2 separate regions of the Homo sapiens genome follow, and region 2 is linked to region 1. The links come from fine-mapping of genetic effects on gene expression. A gene starts in region 1. The other region holds a variant in brackets. All regions are shown on one strand. Distances are from middle to middle.

Region 1 (2,922 bases):
AGAGTCACATATTAACTACTATATTTAAAGTAGTGCTTTCCTCTTTCGCACTCTCATATTTCGAGGCTTATTTTCGGCCCCCTAACCTCACCTCCCACTGGAATGTAACCTCCAGCACCTCGTACACTAAAGAAGTGAATATATTCAATAACTTTATTAAATGAATGGCTAACTATAGGCTTCCATGGCACTCAACTGTGTAAATAGAAGAATCGTTTCTAATACCACGATGGAAAGCACAGAGGATCTTGAGTGAGATGACTTAGGTTTGAGTATTGCCCTGCCACTTACTGGGCTGTATGACTCAGATAACTTACCCTCTATACGTAGAAATGTTAAATCAATACAACAGGAATGCTTACTCTTTCTATATCAAATAACTACAGTGATAAACAAATAAAATAACACATAATTGGGCGCTCGGTGAAATGTAAAGCGCTGTTCAAACGCTAACAAGGTCTTGGTAAAAGAAACGGCGACGGTTGTGAAGGGAGGCAAAGAGAAGGAAAAAGCTACGATGCTAGGATACTTCTGAGCAACGGGTGGCTCTCACTGGAGACTGGGTTCTTGATAACCGTCCATCCTAACCCCACCATCGCTGCCCTCCGGTCTTACTCGATCCTTTCCCCTTAGTCTCATGTCTTTTCCCTTAGTTTTCCTCCCACCCCCGACGAATGTCAGGAACTACCCACCTCACAGGCCGCACCATGGTCCCTTTCAAGGCTTGGTATTTACAGTTCTCAAATTCTTGTTGGCTTCAGCGGCGGTTTCAATTCCCGCCCAAAACCAGACTTCGGAGCCCTCCGCCCCCTGTTACCAGTCGTCCAATCATCACCAGCCATGCTTGCGGCGGCGCACGCGCTGTGGGGAAAGCGAATTTGCTCCCGCCCTCCCCAAGGCACCGCTTTTCCGTATCCGGTCCACCAGAGCCGAGTTTGTGCTTTGTCCCTGCACTTTCGTCACAACGGCGGATTTGCCCTGTCTCTGAAATACAGAATAACAATAGAAATACACCTTATTGCACCTTTCAAATTGTTAAATTGAAACAGGTTGGGACATAGGGGCACTTGGACTGAGAAATTTTCTACAAGATGCCAGGAAATAGAAAAGGATGTGGCGAATCTACGTTCGCGGATCCGCGGTGTGGAAAAAGTATGTCGGCAAGTCAGCTGGTTTCCCAGTGCAGGACGCGCTGACAGCTCGAGTGAGCGGACTGCCCAGGACTTCGGAACTAGACGAGGTGAGCCCAGAACCGAGTGAGGATGCCCTTTCAGACTGACAACCGTTACAGAGGGATTAGTCCCCTCACCCGGCTGAAGTTTCTCAGCTCGACCGTCTGTCTTCCTTTTCCCTGATTAATGTGAGCCTCAGAGCCTCCGCTCTGTTGGCTGTGTGTGTTCGGTCCAGACCTTCCATCCCATTTTCTTATGGGAAACCTTCCTGGATTTCACGGTTGCTAAAACTGAACCCAGGCTTCAGGATAGACCATTAGTCTAAAAAAAGAGCGAGAGGAGAAAGAACTAAAGTTATCAGTTTCTTGAAACACAAGTCTAAATGTTGAACCAGAGCTTTTGTGTCTGCCTTCTCTTTTTTTTTTCAACATTCCTGATTCATTCATATTTTTGCATTTATCAGTGGTTGATTCTTTTTTATTGCTGTGTAGTATTTATCTCATAAAATAAACAAGTTTACTATTCTCCTACTAATACGCATTTTGGTTGTTTCCAGTTTGGGGTATTATAAATAAAACTTATATGAGCATTCTTCTGGGTGTACTTTAGCGAACATATGCGTGTGTGTGTATTTGGATATATACTTAGGAATGAAATTTCTACATCATAGAATATACCTTTATGTAGTTTTGGTAGTTTTCTAACATTATAAAAATTTGTATTGCTTTACGTTTAATTTTAATTCTTTCTGAGTAAAACAAATACCCTATCTCTTTGCATTATGGTGAAATAGACGAAGATTTTTGTGTATAGCCTACATACAGATTTGAAAATATAGTCTGGATAATTCAACTTAGCCCCGCCCCACGACATGTACAAAAGTCCTTTGAGTTTTTTTTATATTTCAGGTGATATCTTTTTAAATAACCGTATGAATAATTTTTTGTTCTTTATTTTTCCAGTGAGCACCATAAAATAAAAACGCCATACAATCCAACAATTATTTATTAGTTCTTGCCATTCGCAACATCCTGCCTAATACATGGAATACAAGACAGTATTCCTTCCACTTCAAGAAGACTGTTTTCTAGCCAAGAGTAAGAAATAGAGCGTGATAAGTGCCATGATTCAAATAAGTCTAGGCTAATATGAGAGCCTGTCGGGACCCAATCCAGTTTTAGGGAGTTGGATAAGTCTTCCTAGAGGCTTAACTGAGACCTGAAGAATTAGCAATTGTTATCCAATGAAATTAAGATCAGTAAGAGTGCTCTAGGCAAAGGAAAAGGCATTCAAAAAGATTCGGCATGGAAGGAGAAGTTTGGTGTTGACAGAAGTTCAGAATGGCTGGAAAATAAAATTTGTGAATTTGTGTATTAGGAAGGAGAGGTGCAGTTTCTGAGAGAAGAGTGGAAATATAAGCAGGGGTGTTGTAAACTGGGATAAAGAGTTTGCATTTTATCCTGAGAGCAATGGAATGTCATAGAAAGTTTTTAAGCGGATGAACAACATGATCAGATAAGTATATTCCTTTTTTAAAAAGGAAGATTACTATAACTTCAGTGTAGAAAATAATGTAAGAACTGATTTGATGGGAGAAAGCCTAGCCATAGGAAGTCCAGTTACAAGGCTGATGAATAAATAAATCTTTAATTGATGTTGATTCTTACTGCCTTTAACTAGATTTTCTTCTTCCTTAGTAGTGTCTAGTTTGCCTTTGGGGTGTGGGCCGGAAGTGGAGGTCCTGTACTCT
Region 2 (2,922 bases), 50 kb after region 1:
AACTTGTGCTATGCTGGGAATCTGTCAAGCAAAAGATGCCCAGAAAGAGAACTTGCAGCTCAATCCACAAATCAAGATACATGTGTGTGAAACCATTCCAAAAATTTATATACTGCACAAACTGGTGATCAACCCCTAACTTAAACACTTAAAGTCTCTTTATGAATTTCTCTTTTTTTCTTCTCTGTGTTACCTGTGAATATTAGTAATCTAAAACTTTTTATTTATCACACATGGACACTTGGGAAAGGAAACTTGATTATATTTACATGGAGGCATTTGACTTTTTCAAGAGGCTTGACTCGTCTCAGGTGCAATCCTTAATTAAACATACAAACAAAATTTTCCTTTTACTTTCTTTGCCAAAACAAAATGTAAAAGCACTGAAATATACATTGCAAGTACAAATTTCCTGTGAAAATCTTTTTATAGAAACACAAATGTATAAGACAAATGTGCTTGTTCTTTTAAATTCTCCTGTTTCAGAATCTCTTTTTAATCTACTCCTAAGGATGTACAAGTTAGAGTCAGAAGACGTTTTGGATTTTTTCCCTCTCTCTCATCCTCCCGCTGTGCCCTTGCACTTGCATATTAATAACATTTCATGGACTGGGAAATAGTGTTCTTTTTTGCAAGCTTGATGTCAAGTTAGTCTAAACCAGCACCTGGCAGTATTTTAGTGCTCATCAACATTGTGACAATCACACAAGGAAGATCATTTCTACATTTCTGTCCTCCCTGCGTTCTCAGCTTGCTTAACCATTCCTCTACCTCTTGCATTTTTTTGCGGATAAATGTATCCCCATTTCTGCTTCTCTGTTTCCCCTCCTTTTCCATTGTTTTTCCTTATGGTACTACTTTCTCAGGTGCTACATATCATATATTTGTCCCATCTATAACATATTTAAATGCTATAAGTAGTAACTCCATTAAACAAAGGCATTTACAAAAGCACACAGGTGTTTAGAAAAGCAATAGTTTCATCAATTCCAAGTTATGTGGATATTGTAACTGGCCACAAGAATGAAATGGAGGGCATTTGGTGTCATAAGATGGCATGTCTTGATGACAAGAAACAAAACGCCCTTCATTAATATGCCTCAGTGTAATAACTATTATAGAAACTGTTGGCAAGCAGAGTGCTTTCCTATAACAGAATGTGTCTTAATTTTCTACTCGAGGGAAAGGTTTGTCCAGGTAACAACACTAAAGACAACCCTAAGAACACCCACTCCAGCAGTATGTCCATTAGACACTAAAACTCTCCAAATTATTTGTCAGGGAGCCTGGCGATTCTGCCAAGAAGGCAGGTGTTTTGCCCTTAGAGCCTATACAGTTCTCTTGGAGAAATTGTCTTTCAGGCACCACTGTTAATCACTGAGACTGATTCTAATGCAAAGCAGGGAAGACAGAGGCAGAAACCAGGAGAGTGGTAGATCAG[T/G]GCAGCCCAGATATCGGAATGGAGGAGCAAAGTTTCATTCACGGATGTTTGTTGAATGCTGCTGCCCAACTCTTCCTTTGTCACCTCTAGGCTATTCCACTAAGTTACTTATAAACTGGTGGCTTTAACTGAGGGCTGTGTAAAGGTACTATTTGGCATGTGAAGTCAGGATAAATTTATCGAATGTCCGTTTTCCACATGCAACTGTGTTACAGAAGTAGTAAAATTGGAAGAATCATGTTTATGGTGTTACCACTGATGGAAACACACAAACACCAAGCTAATAATAAATATATAACTTAAAAAGCTAATTATATGCACTGAAATGGTGGGAATTTTAGTGATGCAGTAATTGAGGAGTCTGGAGTTTTGTATTTGGACCAAGAATTATGAGATGAGGATCTTTTTCTGAGTGTTCTAAAGGGCTTCTTGAGGGGGAGTGGTTTAAAGCACTTCATGAATGATGTGAAGAAGGTACCTTGGGCTGAGACAGCATTCTAGGTACAGATGGCACTCTGTTCAACCAACTGTGGATGGAAAATATTCTGAAAAAAAATACAATAAAAATTTTAAAAATACAATATAACATCTGTTTACATGGCATTTACATTGTATTTGGTATAAGTAATGTATAGACGGATTAAGTATATGGGAGGCTGTGTGTAGGTTGTATGCAATTACTACACCACTTTATATGAGACTGGAGCATCCAGGGATATTGATATTGGCAGGGGGTCTGGAACCAGTCTCCTGCAGATACCAAGGGACAACTGAGTAAGGCGCAGATAGGAGCAGAAGCAGAATGGAGGCAGTGGTAAATGGCCAGTAAGTTGAGAGGAGCTGACCACGAGAGTCTTTGAGGATGGGGAGATTAGCACAAACATTGACATTGGTGAGGATTGTGAGTTAGAAGTTTTCTATTTGTATAAACAGTTACATATTCCTAAATGGCCCTCAAGGCCTTAAGAGTGTGCTTTGGAAATCAGGCAGAGGCACTGAACCTGAGGTCTCCATTCTGTGCTGCTCTTTCCCCCCCTTCCCCCATTTCTGCTCTCGAAGCACCACACAAGCAAAGCCATTGATCTAGAAGTGTGGCACCAGCTGTTTCTCAGCATGACAGTGTGACCAGAATGGAAGAAATGCATGAAAAAGAATTTCAGCGGGAAGAAACTGAGCTTGCCTGGGAGTTGGCAGATCTCTTATTGGCACAGTACACACCATCATTTGTGTTACTTCAGTTGGATCCTGGCTAATTCTCACAAGAAGAAAACATGTTTCACAAAAGAAAGATGAAATCACAGAAACATTTCTTTTCTAGAGGCTCTAAGGGAGAATTCACAGAACTGTAGAAAGAACCCACTAAAGTTAGAGACGAGCCTCAGGCCTATTTTTCAGTTTCTTTTTATTTTCTATTTTTCAGTTTCTAGGTGAAAATGGCTGCTTTTCTGTGACTTAAGTTTTTCCATTTATATGAAGTGGGA

Which allele goes with the higher level. Alleles are on the strand shown, and positions count from the first base shown. SD is a standard deviation of normalised expression in the study named.
As copies of T replace G in region 2, the expression in monocytes after LPS of the gene that starts at base 1,180 in region 1 goes up (large effect, 0.94 SD a copy in Kim-Hellmuth 2017).

What was found.
Region 2: its variant is fine-mapped to the expression of FERRY3 in monocytes after LPS (Kim-Hellmuth 2017, PIP 0.95).

What each region holds. Positions count from the first base shown.
Region 1 is chr12:4,536,727-4,539,648 of GRCh38, reverse strand. FERRY3 (FERRY endosomal RAB5 effector complex subunit 3) reads left to right here and starts at 1,180. Exons shown (of 14, transcript NM_020374.4): 1 at 1,180-1,240. RAD51AP1 (RAD51 associated protein 1) reads right to left here and starts at 759. Exons shown (of 9, transcript NM_006479.5): 1 at 693-759. The coding sequence starts at 709. RefSeq lists enhancers at 327-935, 936-1,545 and a silencer at 1,151-1,200.
Region 2 is chr12:4,486,835-4,489,756 of GRCh38, reverse strand. FERRY3 (FERRY endosomal RAB5 effector complex subunit 3) reads left to right here. Exons shown (of 14, transcript NM_020374.4): 14 at 1-2,022. Among named protein-coding and RNA genes, the nearest start is that of FGF6, 42 kb to the right of the region's middle. The variant T/G (reference allele first, on the strand shown) is at 1,442.